Homo sapiens: one gene and its partners. The protein of the gene in region 3 interacts with the protein of the main gene of each other region in a pairwise test. Each region holds a gene or a part of one and is shown on either strand. Other genes may lie near its edges.

Region 1 (2,740 bases), on a different chromosome or scaffold from region 3:
CTCAAATAACTTGCTCAAATTCTTGTTAATTGGTAAGTAGTGAGGCAAAGACTCAAAATATTTGGTTGACTCTAAAATGAATGCCTTTGACCACCATAATATATAACTGTTTCTTATTATTCACGGATTCCATATTTGTGAATTTGCCTACTTGCTAAAATGTGTATCCACCAAATCAATACTTGTAGCACTTTTATGGTAATTCTCAGACATGCACGGAGAGGTGAAAATTTGAGTTGTGTGAAGTTGAGTCCCCAGCCAAGGAGCCTTCTTGTTTCAGCTCTCAGGCTAGAAAATAGTGTCCATTGCGCAGTCTATCTAGTGCCACTTTTTTTGTTTTGCCTTCTTGTGCATTTTGTTGGTGATTTTGCTGTTAAAAATGGCTTCTGTACCATTCCAAGTCAAGTGCTGTCTAGTATTCCCAATCACAAGAAGGCTATGCTGTGCCACATGGAGAAAACACATGTGTTAGAGAAGTTTTGTTTGGGCATGCGTGACAGTGCTGCTGACGTGAATTTGATGTTAATGAATCAACAATACGCACTAAATGAGGTTATGTATTGCTTGGTTGACAAAACTGTGACCACAGGCTCACAGGAACATAGCCCTCTATTTCCTGTAGGAGCAATGGTTCTATATTTGCTAATTCAGTATTGGAACTGACTTCATAGAACAGAACTCACTGGAATGACAAGGATAGGCCACATTTCCTTGTGAGGACCCCAAGAAGCAAAAGCGCCCACTGTGGCCAGGCCAGACAATCAGACGGGGCTTATTTGGGGATGTCCTGGCCCCTTTGTCAGCCAGCCCCAAGTGTGTCAGTCCCATCGTTAACGCTGGGCTTTCCCATTCTCTCCCGCAGAGGGGCACAGCCGAACCCTTCCCGAGGCTCCACAACTTGTACAGCACCCCTCGCTGCGCGCAGCAGGCCGCCCTGCCCCGGCTGAGCCGCAGGATGGCGAGCCAGCACTCCTATCCACTGAACCGCTTCTCCTCCGTGCCTTTAGACCCCATGGAGCGCCCCATGTCCCAGGCCGACCTGGAGCTGGACTACAACCCGCCGCGGGTGCAGCTCAGCGACGAGATGTTCGTGTTCCAGGACGGGCGCTGGGTAAATGAGAACTGCCGCCTGCAGTCTCCCTACTTCTCCCCATCCGCCTCCTTCCACCACAAGCTGCACCACAAGAGGCTGGCCAAGGAGTGCATGCTGCAGGAGGAGAACAAGTCTCTGCGGGAGGAGAACAAGGCCCTGCGCGAGGAGAACCGGATGCTCAGCAAGGAGAACAAGATCCTACAGGTCTTCTGGGAGGAGCACAAGGCCTCGCTGGGCCGAGAGGAGAGCCGGGCCCCCTCGCCACTGCTGCACAAAGACAGCGCGTCCCTGGAGGTGGTGAAGAAGGACCACGTCGCCCTGCAGGTGCCCCGTGGCAAGGAGGACAGCACCCTGCAGCTCCTCCGGGAGGAGAATCGCGCGCTGCAGCAGCTGCTGGAGCAGAAACAGGCCTACTGGGCGCAGGCAGAGGACACGGCCGCCCCTGCCGAGGAAAGCAAGCCCGCCCCCTCACCCCACGAGGAGCCCTGCAGCCCCGGGCTGCTGCAGGACCAGGGCTCCGGCCTCTCCTCCCGCTTCGAGGAGCCCAAAGGGCCTCCGGCCCGGCAGGAGGACTCCAAGGAGCTGCGCGCCCTGCGGAAGATGGTCAGCAACATGTCCGGGCCCTCCGGGGAGGAGGAGGCCAAGGTGGGCCCGGGCCTGCCCGACGGCTGCCAGCCCCTGCAGCTGCTGAGAGAGATGAGGCAGGCGCTGCAGGCCCTGCTCAAGGAGAACCGGCTCCTGCAGGAGGAGAACAGGACCCTGCAGGTGCTACGGGCAGAGCACAGGGGCTTCCAGGAGGAGAACAAGGCCCTGTGGGAGAACAACAAGCTGAAGCTGCAGCAGAAGCTGGTCATTGACACCGTGACCGAGGTCACCGCGCGCATGGAAATGCTCATCGAGGAGCTCTACGCCTTCATGCCGGCCAGGAGCCAGGACCCCAAGAAGCCTAGCAGGGTCTGAGGCCTCGGCCTTGCACCGGGACGCCGAGTTTGGGACACCGAACACTGGGCAAAAGAGAATCCCCTGCCTTCCTTTGTCGTCCTCGCCTTCCCCAGCCAGTTCGTACCTATTGAAAAGCAGCGTTAGCAGCCTTCCTAAACTCAGAGTTTTAATAAAGGTGTGAGGAGGCTGGGGCCAGTTGACACCAGCATGCTGCCTTTTTCTTTCTTTCTTTCTTTCTTTCTTTTAATAAAAGATAGACAATATTTTAGAGCAGTTTTGGGTTCACAGCTAAACTGAGCAGAAAGTACAGGGAGTTCCCATAGACTCCCGTCCCACAAATGCATAATCTCCCGCATTATCACCATCCCTCCAGAGAGGTACACTAGTGACAGTCTTTGAACCTACATTGACACATAATTATTCCAAAGTCCGTAAGTTTGTATTAGGGTTTGCTGCTGGTGTTGTACATTCTGTGGGTTTGATCAAATGCATAGTGACATGTAGCCACCATTGTAGTACCATATAGAGTATTATAGAGTATATGTAGTACCATATAGAGTATTTTCATTGCGCTAAAAATCCTCTGTGCTCTGCCTGTTCATCCCTCCCTCCCCCTCCAGCCTCTGGCCACCACTGATCTTTTTTACAGTCTTCATAGTTTTGCTTTTTTCAGAATGTCATATAGTTGGAATCGCCAAGTGTGGA
Region 2 (3,500 bases), on a different chromosome or scaffold from region 3:
AAGCAGTCGGTAAAAAGTCAAAAGAAGAAAATAAAGTTTTGTGACCCTTAAACATTTTATAAAATTCAAATGTTAGTGTTCATAGTAAAGTTTTACTGGTGTGAGGCCAAACTCATTCATTTACATCTTGCCTGTGGGTGCTTTTGTGCTGCAAAGGCAGAGTGGCAGAGTGGCGACAGAGACGATGGCCCGCAAAGCCTAAAATAGTGGCTGTCTGGCCTCTTACAGAAAAGGTTTGCTGACCCCTGCTCAAGATAATCATAGTTCTCTCCAGGCCTTGCACTAAACTGCTCCAGGATCTCAATCTAAAAGTACTTTCTTTTCATTTAAAAAGAAGTGTTGCTATTTTCTTCTTATGTAAGCAATAAATGTTCATTATGGAAATATTAGAAGATGCAGATAAGCAAAAAGAAGACATTAAAATCACCCATAATTCTATCACCCAGGAATAACTACTGCTGGTGTTTTGACTTACCACCTTCTGGGTTATCTAACAGTGTGCTGTGTTTATATGTGCATGCCTGTGACACATGTGTATATCCTGCATACGTACAGCTTTTACAAACTGTACACATCTGTCCTCTTCACTTAAAAACACATCTTGGCCAGGTGCGGTGGCTCACACCTATAATCCTAGCACTTTGGGAGGCCGAGGCGGGCGGATTACCTGAGTTCAGGAGTTTGAGACTAGCCTGGGTAACATGGTGAAACCCCATCTCTACTAAAATACAAAAAATTAGCTGGGTGTGGTGTCGTGCGCTTGTAGTCCCAGCTACTTGGGAGGCTGAGGCAGGAGAATTGCTTGAACCCGGGAGACAGAAGTTGCACTGAGCCAAGATCACGCCACTGCACTCCAGCCTGGGTGACTCCGTCTCCAAAAGAAAACACACACACACATACCTCTAACTGAACCCTTGGGGGACACACAGGCAGGGTGCCCAGAAGGCAGCTGCACCCAAGCATCTGGAGCTGAGGGGCTTGGTGGGGCCAGGGCTACAGATCTGGAGTCATCAGCACGCGGGTGGTGGTTTCCACTTCGGGAGGGGATGAGGTCACCCAGGAAGCATGCCCAGAGAGGAAGAGCAAAGGGCCAAAGAGAGAATTGTGGGAGTGTTGACATTCAAGGGACAGGTAGAGGAAGTAAGTCCACCAGACCCGGGAGGAAGGAAGAAGCAGGAGGAGACCCAGGCAGCCAAAGGGAGTGGAATCCGAGGCCCAGGGCCCAGGACAGTGCCTGGCGCTGAGCAGGTGCTTGTGAAATGAGTGAGTGACTTTGAGGAGGCTGAACCCTGGTGAGTGAGTGACACTGATAAAAGACATTTAGAGAACAGTTGAACAACTATGAGATGTTCAGAGGCCTGGGGGAGGCCATGCAGGCCAAGGAGGCCTCCTGGGCCCAGCCTGGTGGGAGGGAGGCCATGCGGAGTGTGAGGAGGGAGAGGCGGGGCAATCCAAGTGACCAGAAGCTGGGAGCTGGTCAGAGGAGCCCAGTGGAGTTCTTGGCGGTGACATGAAGCTGCTTTTTTTAAGCTAGTCTCTCAGATTGGAATGAGGAAAGTTGGAGACGACCAGCCAGGGGTTCTTGTCAGAATGTGGGCACTGGGCGGCGTGGGCCAGCTGGTGGGGGTGGAGTATAAATAGGAATATGGTTTAGAGATGCTGGGAAATCCTCCCCATTCCCTCCCCCTCCTGAGACTGAGAGGTCCCCAGGGATGCCAGGCTCAAAGGCCCCTGCAGTTCTGTTGCCAAAGTTGGGCATGGAGAGAAACCCAGAGACAGGACTGAAGGTCCCATGACAGGCCAGCAGGAGAGCTGGACACGGGATATCTGGCTGAGAGAGGGCTATTGGGTGGGTGAACTCAACACTCTTCTTTTCTTCTCCAATTTATTGTGTAAAAGATGGTAGGCACCAGTTTCTGTGCCAGAGCAAGTGGAGAGGAAACAAGCTGTTTCCTCTGGTATTTAAGGAAGACCTAAGGAAAGGTTCCAGACTTTGGGATCTCAAAAACACAGGACAGTTGGGGAAGGACCTTCCTTGAGTGTCTTTAAAGAGGGCTGATAAAAGGAGCAGAGAGGGCTCCTCTGGCTGGGAGAGTAAGGCGGGCTTTCTCTGGAGGCAGGAGGATGGGGGAGATGGAGGCCAGGCCTATCCTGGCCCTTGCCCCTTGCTCTGGTCTCTGATCTGGGATGTTCTGTACGCCCAGGACCAGAACTGACAGAAGGGCTCCTTGTCCCATCTTATCACTTGGACATCCTGAGCCTCCTCAGAGAGTGCAGACCAGCTTTAGCTGGGCCCCCAAAAAAGGTCAAAAGGAAAATACCAGAAGATGCAATATGCACCTCTATTCCTTAAGCCTCAGGAAGCCAGAGAGCAGCAGGGTGGACATCAGTAGGACTGAAGTGGAGCCACACAGAGGGGCTAGATAGGAGGTCGTGTGGGGTCAGAAAGGGTCATCTGTAGGGGTCAAGGCCAACATCTGAGCCTGAGTAGTGCACCTGCCCTACAAGGCTCTGAGAATCTTCCCTGAGTGATAGAGCCAGGAAGAGGGCCACAAGCCCCTCCGAACCCCTTCCCCACAGCCCTGGAGGCCCTAGCTCAATGCATGTTGCAGGAGGAACTTCTCATTCGGGTTCTTCTCATTCCAGTCCACCCCTCACTGTAGGATGGTGCCTCCAGCCCAAAAACCTCCACAGACCTCACTGGGGGAGTAATTGCTGGGCAGGACACTGCCCCCACTGCCTCAGCCCATCTCCCGCTGCTGTTGGGCCACATGCTGGCTAGAGGAAGAGGGTCAGGTTTCAGCTGAGGCCTCGAGTCCAGCTTTCATATTTCATTTGCTGGTCATTTGAGGGCTCACTTTGTCTCAGGCTTTGGGTCAGGCTCTGGGGGTGCAATGACGAGTCACGCCACAGTGCTTGCCCTTAAAAAGCCCACAGGCAAACTAGGGAAATGACAAGTAAACAGTTACAGGACAGGGAGCCAAGTGCCCTGCCTTGGGATGTCAGAAAGCTGTGGGAGCACAGAAGAGGGACCATCACCTGGCTGGGGACAGTGGAGTTTCGGGCTAGAGGAGATGCAGAGGTCCCCATGGCAGGATGAGTAGCACGTTGTTGGTTTCTCCCTAGTCCCCCATCCATCTGCTTGGGTACCAATCCCTGTATTCCTGTTCCCTCTGAAACCCAAGAAAACTGAGGAGGAAGCATGCCCCGGGGAGTCTGGGGCTGGGTGACTGGACAGTCTAGGCTTACTCTAGTGTGCCCAGAAAGAGGACAGGGCCAGGCCCACCCCAATCATGCTCAAGTCTAACTAGGACAGGAGATGGCCTAATGAGAAGATACACCTAGAAACAGGTCCCTGGCCTGCCTGAAAGTGGAAGGAAAGGCACCAACATTTATTGCACGTGGCAGTGTGTCCTGGATCTTAAAGGTGACTAAGATACAGTCTTTGTCCTTGAGGGATCTAATGTTTCCATATCTGTAGAGGAAAGAGGTTTAAACAA
Region 3 (3,500 bases):
CTATTTACCTAATTGTTATATTAATATTTGAGTAAGTACTATATTTAGGCTACTACAGTAGACCCAGGACTCTGTTTTGTTATAAACACTGATATTCAGTCACAAATATGGATAAACAGGGTTTCAAGATGATTCTTTAGAAATGTTCAGTCAGTAATTACAGCTTGATGAGTATGAAATTGTAAACTATCAAAGATACCACAGTAGGTAAATATTAAAGACATAATACATTCTAAAAAGTGGGTGAGGCTGAGCGCAGTGGCTCATGCTTGTAATCCTAGCACTTTGGGAGCTGAGGTGGGTGGATCACCTGAGGTCAGGGGTTCAAGACCAGCCTGGTCAACATGGGGAAACCCCGTCTCTACTAAAAATACAAACGTTAGAGTTTCTGTTTGGGATGATTAAAAGTTCTGGAGATGGATGACCATGATGTTTGCACAAAAATGTAAATGTACTCAATGTCATTGAATTGTACACTTAAAAGTGTTTAAAATGGTAAATGTTATATATATTTTACCACAATAAATAAAATATAGACTGGAAAAAAAATAAATAAAAATAAAAATAAAAATACAAACATTAGCTGGGCCTGGTGGCGGGCACCTGTAATCCCAGCTACTCAGGAGGCTGAGGCAGGAAAATCACTTTAACCTGCCGGGTGGAGGTCCAGTGAGCCGAGATCGCACCACTTCACTCCAGCCTGGGTGAAAGGGTGAAACTCCATCTCAAAAAAAAAAAAAAAATGGGTGAGGGATTTCGATCGAAGCTGTGGAATCTGCTCCAGATCTCAGGTTGCTACTATAGCATCTTGGGTAGATCACTCTTCTCCAGTAAGCCCTGGGCTTTCTCAAACCTTTTCTGTACAGGAAGCCTGTCCCTTCTGCCATCCTGGTCAACTCTGCCTACCAAATTCCTGCCCATCTTTGAAAGCGAAACCCTAACCTAGGCTCCCCTCCTTTGGGAAACTTCCCAAGGCCTCCCTCCATGCTACATGATCATCTTTTTTTTTTTTTTTTTTAAGACGGAGTCTCGCTCTGTCGCCCAGGCTGGAGTGCAGTGGCGCGATCTCGGCTCACTGCAACCTCAGCCTCCCGGGTTCACACCATTCTTCTGCCTCAGCCTCCCGAGTAGCTGGGACTACAGGTGCCCGCCACCACGCCCGGCTAATTCTTGGTATTTTTAATACAGATGGGGTTTCACCATATTAGCCAGGATGGTCTCGATCTCCTGACCTCGTGATCCACCCACCTCAGCCTCCCAAAGTGCTGGGATTACAGGTGTGAGCCACTGCGCTCGGCCGATCATCTCTTTTTACAGACTAGACATCCTTAATCACAAGTATCTTTTTTTTTTTTTTTTTTTTTTTTAAGACAGAGTCTCGCTCTTGTCGCCCAGGCTGGAGTGCAGTGGTGCAATATTGGCTCACTGCAACCTCCGTCTTCCAGGTTCAAGCTATTCTCTTGCCTCAGCCTCCTGAATAGCTGGGATTTCAGGTGCATGCCACCACACCCAGCTAATTTTTGTATTTTTAGCAGAGATGGGGTTTCACCATGTTGGCCAGGCTGGTCTCTCAATCCTAACCTTTGGTGATCCACCCGCCTCGGCCCCCAAAGTGCTGGGATTACAGGCGTGGGCCACCGCACCCAGCCAATCACAAGTATCTTTATAGGACATCTTTATTTTTTACAGAAAATAAAGTACTAGCAGAGTACTTGGCCTTCAGTCGTTATTTCTTTAGCCCATTAGTAATGAATAAAGAGGTTTCGCTAGCAAGAATGAAAGAAAGGACTAAGAGAAGCTCTACTATTTTCTGAAAGGTGATAAAACATACAATCAGATAAATTTCCTTTTAAAAAGACTTTCAAATAAATCTTTAGAACCTGCAAACCCTCCCACAAAGAAAATGTAAACACTGAAAGGTAGGAGGCAATTTTACTTTATATTTCTAGTATCACCACAGCTTTTCATTCAAACAAACATTGCCATGAAGTTAGGGAAATTCCTGCTGCATTCACTTGTTACTTTTTTTTTTTTTTTCAGTAATCAAGTTGAAGAAACACTTCCACTACTTAAAAAGGTACCTGCAAATTACTTTCACATTTGTTCAGCTATCCTAATGGGATTTTCACTTAGTAAATCTGCTACTCAGGTATCTGCTATACATATGGATTCAAAAGTGGATGATCACTTAATACGAGGGACTGAAAAAAGCAGGTTGGAACCAGCGACTCAGTTATTTCAAAACACCAAGAAAATAAGATTAGAAGACACAAATCAAGAAAACTTTACAAGGATTGAAGGGACTGGCACAGGATCTCTTTCTGGGAAAGCCTTGGGTTCAGTGGTATATGTCAAAGAAAGTGATGGACTAGAAATGACAGATGTGGAATGAAGCAATTTGTACGTATTACCAAAGAAACCAAAAACTGCCTTTGACTAAGGGGGGTGTTGAAAGAGAACTTAACCTTATTAGGAAACCCTGACAAAATGATGGAAGACTATTGCCTTATTTTGCACTATTTGTGAATCATCTTACACTGCATTTTTTTATGATGCTTATTCAAAAGGCAGTTGCTTTAGGGTGAAAAAGCCTTCCAAGATTCAAAGCAGATTTCTCTGGTATTATATTATATCCTTCTTAAAAACCAGAGTTTTTAAGTAACAGTATTTGAATGGCATCAAAACATTTTCATTTTAATGTATTTCTTTAACAAGTGGTTAAAAAAAGTGTCCAAGCAGCCGGGCGCAGTGGCTCACACCTGTAATCCCAGCACTTTGGGAGGCCAAGGCGGGTCAATCACCTGAGGTCAGGAGTTCGCAACCAGCCTGGCCAATATGGTGAGACCCCATCTCTACTAAAAATGCAAAAAGTTAGCCAGGCATGGTGGTGGGCACCTGTGATCCCAGCTACCTGGGAGGCTGAGGAAGGAGAATCGCTTGAACCCTGGAGGCGGAGGCTGCACTGAGCTGAGGTCATGCCATTGTACTCCAGCCTGGGCAACAAGAGCAAAACTCCGTCTCAAAAAAAAAAAAAAAAAAAAAAAAGTCCAAGCAATGTGACATCCGTATTTCACAATATTTCTGGTGTATCAGTTTTGTATGTTACATTTCCATTTTGGGATTCTGCTTTATGATACTTTACTTTCTTACATTTTGCATTTTTGTTCTGTAAAAGATCACTGCCAATAAACTGCAAAAGACCAATAAATTGCATATCTTCAGAAGGATTTCACATTTTAAATCGTGCCTTTAAAACTGCTTTTTCCCCCCACATAGAATCCATTTTAGAGTTAGAAAAGTGTTCTTTCCAAGTGTTAATAGTTTGTCTTGCAGATGGTACCATTTTATGTCACCAATATTTAATATGAGAAAAAACAACCTGTTTAAAAACCTTGTTTTGTATATCAGTTATGAAAATATCTGGTAGTTGGAAATCTCTTTAATATTCATTTTAAAAGAGGAAAGGGCATCTTTTCCGGGGGGAAGCTATATTTTATTAA
Region 4 (3,500 bases), on a different chromosome or scaffold from region 3:
TTGGCTTCATAAAATGAGTTTGGAAGTATTCCCCCCTCCTCCCTCCTTACTCCCTCTTCCCTCCCTCTTCTTCCTTCTTCCTCCTCCTCCCTTTTCTTTCTTCTTCCTCCTTCTTTCCTCCTCCTCCTCCTCTTCCTTCTTCTCCTCCTCTTCCTTTCTTCTTCTTTCTTCTTCTTGATAGAACTGTGCTATGAGGTCATCTGTTCCTGGGCTTTTTCTTTGTCAGAAGAGTTATGACTACTGATTCAATCTCCTTACTAGTTATAAGTCTTTTCAGATCTTCTATTTCTTCTTTATTTTAGTCTTGATAAATTACAAGTTTCTAGGAATGCATCCATTTCTTCTAGGTTATACAGTTTTTTGGTGAATAATTGTTCATGGTAGTCTCTTATGGTCATTTGCGTTTCTGTGTTATCAATGGTAACATCTCTTGGTTTTGATTTTATTTATTTTCGTCTTCCTTTTTACTAGTCAAACTAAAGCTTTGTTGATTTTACTTATCTTTTCAAAATCCAGCTCTTAGTTTTAGTGGTCTTTTCTATTGTTTTTGTAGTCTCTATTTCATGAGATTTTGTTATTTCCTTCTGCTAACTTTTTCTAGTTCCTTTAGATGTAAAATTACGGTGTTTATTTAAGATTTTTTTTAAATATAGGCGATTATTGCTATAAACTTTCCTTTTAGAACTGCATTTGTTCTATACATTTTGCTATGTCGCATTTCAATTTTAATATTTCTTGTGATTTTTTAAAATTTTCTTTTTGATTTCTTCTTTGACCCATTGATTATTCAGGAGTATTTTGTTCAATTTCCACATAGTTGTCAGCTTTCCAACTTTCATTCTGTTATTGATTTCTGGTTACATACCATTGTGGTCTGAAAAGATACTTGATAGGATTTCAGTCTTCCTCAGTTTGTTGAGTCTTGTTTTGTGACCTGCTGCATGATCTACGCTGGATAATTTTTCTTGTGTGCTTAAGAAGAATGTGTATTATCTGCTGTTTGATGGAATGTTCTGTATAAAGGTTGAGTATCCCCAATCCAAAAATCCAAAATCCAAAATGTTCCAAAATTTAAAACTTTTTGAGTACCAACATGATGCTGAAAGGAAATGCTCTTTGGAACATTTTTGGTTTTGCATTTTTGGATTAGGGATGCTCAGCTGGTAAACATAAGGCAGGTATTCCCAAATCTAAAAAATGTAAAATTCAAAACACTTCTAGTCCCAAGCATTTCAGATAAGGAATATTCAACCTGTATGTTAGATCCATTAGATCCAGTGTATAGTTGAAGTCCAATATTTCCTTACTGATTTTCTGTCTGGATGACCCATCCATTATTGAAAGTAGGATTTTTGAAGTCTTCTAGTATTATTGTGTTACTATCTATTAATGTCTTCAGATCTGTTAATATTTTCTCTGTTTATTTAGGTGGTCTGATGTTGGGTACATATATATATTTACAGATACTGTATCCTCTTGTGGAATTGGCCCCTTTCTCATTATATAATTACTTTCTCTGACTCTTTTTACAGTTTTTGATGTAAAGTCTGCCCTATCTGATAAAACTTTAGCTTCCTCTGCTCTCTTTTGGTTTCCATTTGCATGGAATATCTTTTTTCCTATACCCATGCATGTGCTTAAAGGTGAATTGAGTCTCTTGTAGACAACCTGTAGCTGAATCTTGTTTTCTTTATCCATTCAGCTGCTCTTTATCTTTTGATAGGAGAATTTGGCCCATTTACATTCAAGGTAACTATTGATGGGTAAAGACTTCTGTCATTTTGTAATTGTTTTCTGATTGTTTGGCAGATTATTTGTTTCTTCCTCTCTTGCTGTCTTCCCTTGTGTTTAGATGATTTTCTGTGGTGGTATGCTTTGATTCCTTTATATCTTTTGTGCATCTACTATTGGTTTCTACTTTGTGGCTATCATGAGGTTTACATAGAACATCTTATAGTTATAGTAGTCTGTTTCAAGCACTAACAACTTAATTTCAATTGCATTAAAAAACTGTACTGTTACTCAGACCCTCCTGCACATATTTTATGTTTTTGATGTCATTATTTGCATTTTATATTGTGTATTCATGAAAAAATTATTGAAGCTATAGTTATTTTTAATACTTTTTTTTAAAAACCTGTATTTTAGAATTAAGTAATTTACACATGACCATTACAAATTTAGTATATTATTAATTTGATTATATATTTATCTTAACAGTGAGTTTCATACTTTCATATGTTTCCATGTTGCTAATTAGTGTCCTTTCATTTCAGCTTGGAGAACTCTTCAGCGTTTCTTGTAAGGCGCGTCCAGTGGTGATAAACTCCCTCAGCTTTTGTTTGTCTGGGACTGTTTATATCTCTTTCATTTCTGAAGGACAGCTTTGCTGGGATACATATTCTTGTCTGGTAGTTTTGTCTTTCAGCACTTTGAATATATCATCCAACTCTCTCCTGGCCTACAAGGTTTTTGCAGAGAAATCCACTTGTGGTCTTATAGGGTTTCTCTTGTAGAAGATGAGTTTCTTTTCTGTTACAGTTTTAAAATTCTCTTTCATCTTCTATTTTTGCCAGTTCATTATAATGTGTGTCAGTGAAGTCTTCTTTGGGTTGAATCTTTATGGGGTCCTATGAACTTCCTGTACCTGGATATCTTTCCCTAGATTTATGAAGTTTTCAGCATTTTTTTTTTAAATCAGCTTTCTGTCCTTTCTCTCTTTTCCTTCTTGAATTCTCGGGTTTGTTTTTCATTTTCTTGGGTTTTTTTTTTTGATGGTGTCTTGTTCTGTCACCCAGGCTGGAGTGCAGTGGCATGATCTCAGCTCACTGCAACCTCCACCTCCCAGGTTCAAGTGATTCTCCTGCCTCAGCCTCCCACGTAGCTGGGACTACAGGTGTGCACCACCATGCCCAGCTAATTTTTGTATTTTTAGTAGAGACGGGGTTTTGCCATGTTGGCCAGGCTGGTCTTGAACCCCTGACTTCATGTGATCCACCCGCCTCAACCTCCCAAAGTGCTGGATTACAGGTGTGAGCCATCGTGCCTGGCCTTGAATTCTTAAAATGCAAATATTGTTTTGCTTGATGGTGTCCTATAATTCAGGTAGGCTTTCTCCACTATTCTTTTTTTTTTCTTTTTTTCTCCTCTGACTAGATAATTTCACATGATCTGCCTTTGAGTTCACAGGTTCTTCTGCTTGATCAGGTCTGCTATTGATGCTCTCTATTGCATTTTTTGTTGTTATGTTCTTCAGCTCCCGAATTTGTTTCTTTTTATTATTCCTATCTCTGTGTTGAATTTCTCATTTGTTTGTATATATTTTTTTATTTCATTATCTGTGTTCTTTTGTAGCTCACTGAGTTTGCTTGAAACAATTATTTTGAATTCTTTATCTGTTAGTTCATAGATCTCCATTTCTTTGTGGGTGATTACTGGAAAATTACTGAGTTTCTTTGCTAATGTCACGTTTCTTTTTTTTTTTTTCTTTCTGTTTCTTG
Region 5 (3,500 bases), on a different chromosome or scaffold from region 3:
AGGGAGGAATAAGGGATTTGAGAAGCTCAGGTAGCCCAGCGAGCAGTTACAGCAAGAAGCTTAGGCTGGGCGGGTGGGAGGTTTGTTCTTGGGTCCGCCCAGCATCGGACTTCCTGGCTTCCTCTGATGGCTTCTGCCTGAGCGCTTCCCCAGGAAAGGCCGGGCTGCTCCTATGAGAGCCACGTCTCGTTTCCAGCCCTAGCGAATGGCTTCAGTTTGCTTGGTGGGAGTTGGGCAGAGTCCACCTGAGCAGCACGTGCAGGGGCTGGGCAGGCTGGGCTGCTCCCGGGGCCACCCTCTCCCCACAGTGCATGCCAGCACTTGCATGGGTCCTCTCAACAGCCCTTGAGTTTCAGCTGGAGTGTCCCGGTGAGGAGAGTCGTGAGGACGCCATGTGTGTCCTGGGCGCGCCCCATCACTTTCCTCTCTGTTCCCTCTGCTTTCCAGCCCCTGAAGTGCTGTGCCTGGAGATACCATTGTGGACCCTGGAGAGGCACCTGCTGCTTATGCGGTAAAACCTCTACCACCCCAAACCTGGTCAGTTTGAGGGGAGCCGCTGCCATAGTATCCACAGAGAAGGCCGGAGTTCCAGCCGTGTGGAGCAGCAGAGGGGAGTCTGACAGGGTCACCTCCTCCACAGAGAGAATTGGCAGCTGACTGCACTGCCAGGAGCCAAGGCCTAGGTGTGTGGAGCCTGGAAGACCAGGGATACCTGAGGCAGGAGGTGCAGCGTGTGGAGTGAGAAACCCGAGAGGGACTGGGGCCTGTGCTCAGGATCAGCAGAGCAGGCAGGCAGAGTGGAGAGGGAGAGACGGAGCCCCAGAAGGGGAGCAGGAGGAGAGGGAAGTAGTGGCAGCAGCCCAGGCCAGGCGTGTGTCCTGCAAGTGCTAGGACCAGCCACCCCTCCCCATGGCCTCCAAGCCGGCTGCCGGGAAGAGCAGAGGGGAGAAGCGGAAGAGGGTGGTGCTGACACTGAAGGAGAAGATTGACATCTGCACGCGCCTGGAGAAGGGCGAGAGCCGGAAGGCACTGATGCAGGAGTACAATGTGGGCATGTCCACCCTCTACGACATCAGGGCCCACAAGGCGCAGCTGCTCCGGTTCTTCGCCAGCTCCGACTCCAACAAGGCGCTGGAGCAGCGGCGCACGCTGCACACGCCCAAGCTGGAGCACCTGGACCGCGTCCTGTACGAGTGGTTCCTGGGGAAGCGCTCCGAGGGCGTCCCCGTGTCAGGCCCCATGCTCATCGAGAAGGCCAAGGACTTCTACGAGCAGATGCAGCTCACTGAGCCCTGCGTGTTCTCCGGAGGGTGGCTTTGGCGCTTTAAGGCCAGACACGGCATTAAAAAGCTAGATGCATCCAGTGAAAAGCAGTCAGCCGACCACCAGGCCGCGGAGCAGTTCTGTGCGTTTTTCAGGAGCTTGGCTGCTGAGCACGGGCTGTCCGCCGAGCAGGTTTACAACGCTGATGAGACCGGCCTTTTCTGGCGGTGCCTGCCAAATCCCACTCCGGAAGGCGGGGCTGTGCCTGGCCCCAAGCAGGGCAAGGACCGGCTGACCGTGCTGATGTGTGCCAACGCCACGGGCTCCCACAGGCTCAAGCCCTTGGCCATCGGGAAGTGCAGCGGTCCCAGGGCTTTCAAAGGCATCCAGCACCTGCCCGTCGCCTATAAGGCCCAGGGGAACGCCTGGGTGGACAAGGAGATTTTTTCCGATTGGTTCCATCATATCTTTGTGCCCTCGGTGAGAGAGCACTTCAGAACCATAGGTTTGCCGGAAGACAGCAAAGCCGTTCTCTTGCTGGACAGCTCCCGGGCTCACCCGCAGGAGGCCGAGCTGGTGTCCAGTAACGTTTTCACCATCTTCCTGCCTGCCAGCGTGGCCTCATTGGTGCAGCCCATGGAGCAGGGCATTCGGAGAGATTTCATGAGGAACTTCATTAACCCTCCGGTCCCCCTGCAGGGCCCCCACGCCCGCTACAACATGAACGATGCCATATTCAGCGTGGCCTGTGCCTGGAACGCAGTCCCTAGCCACGTCTTCAGGCGGGCCTGGAGGAAGCTGTGGCCGTCGGTTGCGTTTGCCGAAGGCTCCTCCTCTGAGGAGGAGTTGGAGGCAGAGTGCTTCCCAGTGAAGCCCCACAACAAGTCCTTTGCACACATCCTGGAGCTTGTGAAGGAAGGCTCCTCCTGCCCGGGCCAGCTTCGCCAGCGCCAGGCCGCCAGCTGGGGGGTAGCGGGAAGGGAGGCAGAAGGGGGACGGCCCCCTGCTGCCACGTCGCCAGCAGAGGTTGTGTGGAGTTCAGAAAAGACTCCGAAAGCTGACCAGGACGGCAGAGGAGATCCTGGTGAGGGCGAGGAGGTGGCCTGGGAGCAGGCGGCCGTGGCCTTTGACGCAGTCCTGCGCTTTGCGGAGCGGCAGCCATGCTTCAGTGCGCAGGAAGTGGGGCAGCTGCGGGCGCTGCGTGCCGTGTTCCGGAGCCAGCAGCAGGTGAGGAGGCGGCGTGGTGCCCTCGGGGCTGTGGTCAAGGTTGAAGCCCTCCAGGAGGGCCCTGGTGGCTGTGGGGCCACAGCTCAGTCTCCCTTGCCCTGCTCATCCACAGCAGGTGACAACTGATGGCTTCTCTGCCCTGCCCTGGCCACTGGCCCTGTTTCTCCCCACACCCTGGAGTGGCATGGTCCTGTGCCCCGACCCCACCTGAGGCAGGAGGGCATGTGCAGACACTCAAGAGCCCTTCCAGGAGTGGGTCGCCCACGGGTGTGGCTCGGGTGCCCAGGACGGTCTGTGCCCGAGGTTCCTGTCAATACAGGTTTTATTTTATCACTTGCCGTGTCATCCGAAAGTGAGGAAATGTTTTGGAAGGGTCCACCCTAGCCTAGAACAAGCCAGAGCCGCACCCTGGCTGGAATGGGGGCCAGGCTGAGCCGATCTGGTCTCGTGTTCGCTGGCTGATCATTGCAGTATCAGAGGGTGGAGATGTCAGTCTGTCCACGTGGAGAGAAGTTGCCCTCCAGGCCGACAGGAGGCCATGCCCACCGCCCCTGGACAGGCTTCGTCTCAGAAGGCTCTATCTGCTGGGCTGGCGGCCATCCCCGTGTTGGGTGGACCCCGAGCACGGTTGCCTGAGGTCCGATGGCCCGAGAGCTGGGACTCAGTTCTTGGCCTGCTAGCGGCTGAACAGGCCGCACATCTCACTTCAGTTGTGGCCTCATTCAGCAGAATGACTCTGGAACCATCCTCTGTTACCCGCAGATCCTGTCCCATGGGCTCTGGCCCCAAGATGTTGGGGGGCCCCACGGAGAGTTGACTTGGTAGAGTTCCTTTCTGGGAAGAAAGTAGGAGTGGCTGACCAGGCCCTGCTCATCACCCGGATAGAGGACACGGACCCTGTGTGGTATTTTGGCATTTTGGCTCAGAGTCCAATGTACCATGTTGCCCAGAATTTCATACTTATGGCCTTTACATGAATACGTCTTGATCAGACATTCAGAGATTAGTCT
Region 6 (3,500 bases), on a different chromosome or scaffold from region 3:
GCAGGGAATTGGGAGACCCCCCAGGTCCCTGGCTGGCCGCTAAAACCACCCCTGCCCACTGTGGTTCCAGGTGCTCCTCTCCGAATTCCGGCCCAGTGGGGAGCTGTTCGCCATCAAGGCTCTGAAGAAAGGGGACATTGTGGCCCGAGACGAGGTGGAGAGGTGGGGACCTGCCGTGGTCCTCTGGGGACCTCTTTCTTCTCTTTTGGGAAATGACAGAGCAGTTCTCTCCTTGGAGCTACAGGGAGAGTGACTCATAGTAGTCACTAACGCCAGGCACAGTGGCTCTTACCTGTAATCCCAGCACTCTGGGAGGCCGAGGCAGGTGGATCACTTGGGCTCAGAATTTCAAGACCAGGCTGGGCAACATGGTGACACCCCCATCTTTACAAAAAATACAAAATAATTAGCTGGGTGTGGTGGCACATGCTTGTAGCCCCAGCTACTCATGAGGCTGAGATAGGAGGATCGCCTGAGCCCAGTAGGTCAAGGTTGCAGTGAGCTGAGATCGCGCCACTGCACTCCAGCCTGGGCAACACAGTGAGACCCTGTCTCAAAACAAAAAGTCACTAATACCTACTAGCCTAATACCAAGATAATAATAGCTCTTAGGAAAGTTATTCATTTGTTCCTCCATGTAGCCCTATAAGATAAATACTGATGGCACAGAGAGGTTCAGCAATTTACCCAAGGTCACACAGCCAGTAAGCAGCAGGTCCAGGATTCAAAGCTAGAGACTCAGGCTCTGAAGCCTGTGCCCTTTGTGGTGCCACCATACTGCCTCTGCTTTAGGGTCAGGTTCCTGGGTTCAAATCTCAATTCTGCAGCATGGGCTTGGAGATCCTGGGGAGGTCACTTCTCCCTTCAGAACCTCAGCTTCTTGGCTGGGCATGGTGGCTCACGCCTGTAATCCCAGCACTTTGGGAGGCTGAGGTGGGCAGATCATCTGAGGTCAGGACATCGAGACCAGTGTGGCCAACATGGTGAAACCCCGTCTCTACTAAAAATACAAAAATCAGCCAGGCATGGTGGCGGGTGCCTGTAGTCCCACCTACTTGGGAGGCTGAGGCAGGAGTATCGCTTGAACCCAGGAGGCGGAGGTTGCAGTGAGCCAAGATCGCACCACTGCACTCCAGCCTGACTCTGTCTCAAAAAAAAAAAAAAAAAAAAAAAAGAACCCCTCTTGTTGTGGAGAAGCAGAATGCTATTGCCTTCCACACATGGTTGTCAGGTGCTCTCTACACAGTGCCTAACCCCTCTAAACATTCGGTACAGGCACTGAGATTGTGCCTGGTCTTCCCAGCATCCTTTTGATAATCAGGAACCCAACTGAGAAAGACTGAAACAAGTAAAGAAATTTATTGGTCTGGATCTGAAAAGTCCAGGAGTGTGCTACCTTCAGGCATGGCTGTATCCAGGTGCTGAGATGACGTTTCTCAGTTCTGCTTCCCTCTGTATGGGCTTTGGTTGCCATCTGGGAGTCTGGAGTAAGTGGCGGCCATGGTCTCTGACTTCTATCCCCCACCCCTCCCCAGCCTGATGTGTGAGAAGCGGATATTGGCGGCAGTGACCAGTGCGGGACACCCCTTCCTGGTGAACCTCTTCGGCTGTTTCCAGACACCGGAGCACGTGTGCTTCGTGATGGAGTACTCGGCCGGTGGGGACCTGATGCTGCACATCCACAGCGACGTGTTCTCTGAGCCCCGTGCCATGTGAGCCTGGACCCCAGCCCGGGCCCCTGCCTCCCCTACAGCATCTGACACTTAGTCCCCCCGAGAGGCTGGCAGCCTGCTTCTCACCCCTCCACCCTCAGGCCTTGCTTCCCTCAGCCTCCCAGAGCTTTGGGGAGACTGGGGGGCTTTTGAGGATGTGGAAGCCAGGCTTATGTGACCCTCCCTCCTTGCAGGGTGGCCCCACCCCTCTCAGCAGCCTCTCTCTCTCTGCAGCTTTTATTCCGCCTGCGTGGTGCTGGGCCTACAGTTTCTTCACGAACACAAGATCGTCTACAGGTGTGTGCGTGTGTGCATGCATGTGCACACTGCCCGTTGTGGGGACAGGACCCAGACCCCCGCTCATCCCTCTTTCCACCCCTCCAACCCCCAACAGGGACCTGAAGTTGGACAATTTGCTCCTGGACACCGAGGGCTACGTCAAGATCGCAGACTTTGGCCTCTGCAAGGAGGGTGAGGGGCTGGCCTCTGGATTAGACAAAGGAGGGGGAAGGAATGGGGTCCCTAACCCTATTCGGGGTGCCCCCCACCCTGACCCTGGGACAGGGCTGGCTGTGTGGACAACCCCACATTGGGCTGAGTGACTCCTCTGGCCCCCATAACCTCACATGGCCTTGCTGTCCCCAGGGATGGGCTATGGGGACCGGACCAGCACATTCTGTGGGACCCCGGAGTTCCTGGCCCCTGAGGTGCTGACGGACACGTCGTACACGCGAGCTGTGGACTGGTGGGGACTGGGTGTGCTGCTCTACGAGATGCTGGTTGGCGAGGTGAGACCCCGCCCCTGTGTGTCTCGGATCTCATTGGAACCTGCGCGTGCCCAGGGTGGGATCCAAGTCTGCCTCCACCATGTGTTGTGTGATTGAGGGCTGCTGGCTCTGCTTCCCTGGCCTCAGTTTCCACATCTATAAAATGGGGCATTTCCCTGCCCAAGTAAGCCAGCACCCAAGAGCTGCAGCAGAGTGTGGGGCTCAGGCCGGGCTGGGTTTGGAGCAGCCAGAGGAGGGGCCTCGTTCACCCCGGGCCTCCCTCTCCCCAGTCCCCATTCCCAGGGGATGATGAGGAGGAGGTCTTCGACAGCATCGTCAACGACGAGGTTCGCTACCCCCGCTTCCTGTCGGCCGAAGCCATCGGCATCATGAGAAGGGTGAGGACCCCCGACGTGGGGCGGGCCTGGGGAGGGGCAGTGGGGCCCAGGAGGGGACAGATCCTGACACAGTGCTCCTTCCTCCAAGCTGCTTCGGAGGAACCCAGAGCGGAGGCTGGGATCTAGCGAGAGAGATGCAGAAGATGTGAAGAAACAGCCCTTCTTCAGGGTGAGATTCCCCACAAGGACCTCAGTGACCCCGGCCCTCCCCCAGGGCCGATTCATCACCCCACAGCAGACGGCCCCCATGCCTAGCCGCTTTGCCTCAAGGGCCTCGTTGCGCCTCAAGGGCCTCGTTGCACCTCCAGGGCAACATCGTCACCTCCTTTGACACCCCCATTTCCCTCCTCCACTTTTGTTCCCCCCAAGGACCCTCCTAATCCCACATCTCCACTTTTCCCTTTTTTTTTTTTTTTTAGCCAGGGTCTCGCTCTGTCGCCCAGGCTGGAGTGCAGTGGCTCAATCTCGGCTCACTGCAACCTCCGCCTCCCAGGTTCATGCAGTTCTCCTGCCTCAGCCTCCCGAGTACCTGGGATTACAGGCGTGCACCACTCCACCACACCAGGCTAATTTTTGTATTTTTAGTAGAGACGGGGTTTCGCCATGTTGGCCAGGCTGGTCCT
Region 7 (3,500 bases), on a different chromosome or scaffold from region 3:
TCACTGCATCCTTGAACTCCTGGGCTCAAGTAATCCTCCCACCTCAGTCTCCCAGGTAGTTGGGACTACAGGCACGTGCCAACAAGCCCAGCTAATTTTGTATTTTTTCCTTTTTTTTTTTAACTGAAATTACATAACTGAGATAATTTTTGTCTTTTTGTAGAGACAGGATCTCACTGTGTTGCCCAGGCTGGTCTTGAACTCCTCAAGTGATTGCCTCAAGTGATCCTCCTGCCTCAGCCTCCCAAAGTGCTGAGATTAGAGGCATAACCCACTGCAACTGGCCTGAAGTGAATATTTCTTTTAAATTGTGTTGAGCATAGACCATAGGGAAGCAAGGGTGGAAGCAGAGAGACTGGTTAGGAAACTAAAGTAATAATCCAGGTGACAGAATCTGGATACATTTTGATAGTATAGCCAACAGACTTTGCTGACAGATTGTGTGAGAGTAAGAGTCAAAAATGGCTTCAAAGTTTCTAACCTGAGTAACTAGAATGGAGGAAGTGCCATTTACTATTATGGGAAAATCTGCAGATTTGTGAATGGGAGAGAGAGGAAAGGTTGGTATTTTAGCTTGGCCACGTTAAGTTTGAGATGCCTCTAAGAAATTCACATTGAGATGTGGAGGTGGAGGAGGCAGTTGAATAAATGAGTCCAGAAGTGAGGAGAAAGATCTGGCAATAGATATAATTTTGGATTTTATAGTAGTGTTTTGATAGGAGTTGTTGATATCACCAAAAGTGATATTCTATGGAGTTTGGGTGGATTTGGAGTTCTCTGCAAAGGTGACTGAAGGAGCAGCCAGTGAGCAGAGAAAAACCCACTGTTCAGTAGGTGTTCTAGAAGCAAAATGAAGAAAGTAATTAAGGAGGAAGGAAAAATAAGTTATGTTAAATGTTGCTGTAGGTCAAATGAGATGAGGATTCATAATTGACCAGTACATTTAGCAACATGGAGGTCATTGGGATCTTGATAAGAAACTTTTGGTGGAGTAAAGGGTACAAAAGCCAGATGGGTACTTTTATTTATTTATTTATTTTTATTTATTTATTTATTTTTGAGAAGGAGTTTTTGCTCTTGTTGCCCAGGCTGGAGTGCAGTGGCGCTATCTCGGCTTATTGCAAGCTCCGCCTCCCAGGTTCAAGTGATTCTCCTGCCTCAGCCTCCTGAGTAGCTGGGACTACAGACACCCGCCACCATGCCCGGCTAATTTTTGTATTTTTAGTAGAGACAGGGTTTCACCATGTTGGGCAGGATGGTCTCGATCTCCTGACCTCGTGATCCACCCGCCTCGGCCTCCCAAAGTGCTGGGATTACAGGCGTGAGCCACCGTGCCCAACAATGGGTACTTTTATTTAGTAGAGTATGGGAGACAGCGAGTATGGATGCAGCACTCTTTTACTGTGTTCTTTGTCCAGATTGTTCTAGCCTGTCTTTAACTCCTCTTCTTGCAGGTCTTTGCTCAAATAATCATTTTCTCAGAGGTGTCCCTGATCTAATTAAATACTCTTCTTGTAAATAGACCTATTGCACCGTAAACCTTGAGTTGCTCTTATGTTACCAATTAGTTTTGCAGTTGTGCCATGATTTGATTAAAGTGTGTTTATTTCAGTAGAGCTTAAGCACACAAGAGGAACTACTGTGCTTGTTTTTGTTGATCATCTTATCTCTACCTCTGAGTACAGTGCCTGGTACCTAGTACAAACTTAATAAATGTGTGACGCAAGAATAAAGGAATGAATGAATGGAAGAATGATATAATGCCACAGAACTTTCAAAGGTATGGCATATTTATCTATCATTTACAAAAACACAAAGTAATTAATGGATGGACGAGGGTACATTATAATAAAAACATTTTAGAAAGTTCGTCCTAAAAAAAACAAAGCCGGGCACAGTGGCTTATGCCTATAATCCTAGCACTTTGGGAGGCTGAGGTGGGCCGATCACTTGAGGTCAGGAGTTTGAGACCAGCTCGGCCAAGATGGTGAAACCCCGTCTCTACTGAAAATACAAAAATTAGCCAGGCGTGGTGGTGGGCGCCTGTAATTCCAGCTACTTGGGAGGCTGAGGCAGGAGAATCGCTTGAACCCAGGAGGCAGAGGTTGCAGTGAGCTGAGATCGTTCCATTGCACTCTAGCCTGAGTGACAGAGTGAGATTGTCTCAAAAAAAAAAAAAAAAAAAAGAAGAAAGAAAGAAAGTTTACAGAATCTGTAGCCTAGGAAATGTAATTACTGGTCACATAAAATTTTATTTAATGTGATACAGTTTCACATTGTTTAATTCAGAGTTCTTATATTCATAATGTCTGCTTTTTGGCTGGGCATGGTGGCTCACACCTGTAATCCCAGCACTTTGGGAGGCTGAGGCAGGTGGATCACCTGAGGTCAGAAGTTCGAGACCATCCTGGCCAACATGGTGAAAGTCCATCTCTACTAAAAGTACAAAAATTAGCCAGGCATCATGGCACACGCCTCTAGTCCCAACTACTCAGGAGGCTGAGGCAGGAGAATCGCCTGAGCCTGGGAGGCAGAGGTTGCAGTGAGCCAAGATCGCACCACTGCACTCCAGTCTGGGCGACAGAGTATGACTCTGTCTTAGGAAAAAAACAAAACAAAACAGTCTGCCTTTTTTGCTGCAACATATCAATAGATGTTATGGAATTTAGAAGAACTTCTTTAGATCAGTAAATTTTCACAGTTACATTTTAGAAGAGTAATTAATTAGGGAACAGATATTGAGAGGTTTTGCTAACTTTGGTCATGGACCATGGAATCATGCAGTATGTTGCCTTTTAGACTGGCTCCTTTACTTAGCAATGTGCATTTATAGTTATTTTATGTCTTTATATGTATGGCTTGGGAGCTCATTTGTTTTTATCACTGAAAAATAATCCATTGTATGGATATATCACAGTTTGCTTATTCACCTTTTGAAGGACATCTTAGTTGCTTCCAGTTTTTATCAATTATGAATAAAGTGTCCTAAAAATTTATGTGCAGGCTTTTTCTGGGCAAAAAATTTTTAACTCATCTAGGAATATGATTGCTGGATCTCAGGTAACCCTATGTTTAGCTTTGTAAGAAACTCACAGCTGTTTTTCTTTTTCTTTTTTCTTTTTTTTTTTTTTTGAGACGGAGTCTCACTCTTTCGCACAGGCTGGACTGCAGTGGCGCCATCTCGGCTCACTGCAAACTCCGCTGCCGGGTTCACGCCATTCTCCTGCCTCAGCCTCCTGAGTAGCTGGGATTACAGGCGCCCGCCACCGCGCCCGGCTAATGTTTTGTATTTTTAGTAGAGACGGGGTTTCACCGTGTTAGCCAAGATGGTCTCGATCTCCTGATCTCGTGATCCGCCCGCCTCGGCCTCCCAAAGTGCTGGGATTATAGGCGTGAGCCACCGCGCCCAGCCATACAGCTGTTTTTCAAAGCAGCAGTACCATTTTCTATTTCCCACCAATGAATGAGAGTTCCTGTTGCGCCCCACCTTTGCCAGGATT

What was found.
Region 1: the proteins of TSGA10 (region 3) and CBY2 interact in binary tests that used the Homo sapiens proteins (3 or more experiments, as listed by UniProt).
Region 2: the proteins of TSGA10 (region 3) and CDK18 interact in binary tests that used the Homo sapiens proteins (3 or more experiments, as listed by UniProt).
Region 4: the proteins of TSGA10 (region 3) and BIRC2 interact in binary tests that used the Homo sapiens proteins (3 or more experiments, as listed by UniProt).
Region 5: the proteins of TSGA10 (region 3) and JRK interact in binary tests that used the Homo sapiens proteins (3 or more experiments, as listed by UniProt).
Region 6: the proteins of TSGA10 (region 3) and PKN1 interact in binary tests that used the Homo sapiens proteins (3 or more experiments, as listed by UniProt).
Region 7: the proteins of TSGA10 (region 3) and CEP57L1 interact in binary tests that used the Homo sapiens proteins (3 or more experiments, as listed by UniProt).

What each region holds. Positions count from the first base shown.
Region 1 is NC_000013.11:45,712,320-45,715,059, forward strand, and holds the end of CBY2 (protein chibby homolog 2), read left to right. Parts: intron 1-862; coding exon 863-2,053; 3' UTR 2,054-2,240; downstream 2,241-2,740.
Region 2 is NC_000001.11:205,511,169-205,514,668, forward strand, and holds part of CDK18 (cyclin-dependent kinase 18), read left to right. Parts: intron 1-1,148; exon of another isoform or gene 1,149-1,292; intron 1,293-3,500. UniProt on the Homo sapiens protein: May play a role in signal transduction cascades in terminally differentiated cells.
Region 3 is NC_000002.12:99,148,443-99,151,942, forward strand, and holds part of TSGA10 (testis-specific gene 10 protein), read right to left. Parts: intron 3,228-3,500; exon of another isoform or gene 2,393-3,227; coding exon of another isoform or gene 2,117-2,392; exon of another isoform or gene 2,041-2,116; intron 1-2,040. Other genes in the region: uncharacterized protein C2orf15, read left to right, coding at 2,117-2,392. UniProt on the Homo sapiens protein: Plays a role in spermatogenesis. When overexpressed, prevents nuclear localization of HIF1A.
Region 4 is NC_000011.10:102,357,214-102,360,713, forward strand, and holds part of BIRC2 (baculoviral IAP repeat-containing protein 2), read left to right. Parts: intron 1-3,500. UniProt on the Homo sapiens protein: Multi-functional protein which regulates not only caspases and apoptosis, but also modulates inflammatory signaling and immunity, mitogenic kinase signaling, and cell proliferation, as well as cell invasion and metastasis.
Region 5 is NC_000008.11:142,663,468-142,666,967, reverse strand, and holds part of JRK (jerky protein homolog), read left to right. Parts: intron 1-447; 5' UTR 448-909; coding exon 910-2,616; 3' UTR 2,617-3,500. UniProt on the Homo sapiens protein: May bind DNA.
Region 6 is NC_000019.10:14,467,806-14,471,305, forward strand, and holds part of PKN1 (serine/threonine-protein kinase N1), read left to right. Parts: intron 1-70; coding exon 71-162; intron 163-1,535; coding exon 1,536-1,712; intron 1,713-1,946; coding exon 1,947-2,009; intron 2,010-2,106; coding exon 2,107-2,183; intron 2,184-2,357; coding exon 2,358-2,500; intron 2,501-2,769; coding exon 2,770-2,877; intron 2,878-2,965; coding exon 2,966-3,046; intron 3,047-3,500. UniProt on the Homo sapiens protein: PKC-related serine/threonine-protein kinase involved in various processes such as regulation of the intermediate filaments of the actin cytoskeleton, cell migration, tumor cell invasion and transcription regulation.
Region 7 is NC_000006.12:109,098,507-109,102,006, forward strand, and holds part of CEP57L1 (centrosomal protein CEP57L1), read left to right. Parts: intron 1-1,685; exon of another isoform or gene 1,686-1,780; intron 1,781-3,500. UniProt on the Homo sapiens protein: Centrosomal protein which may be required for microtubule attachment to centrosomes.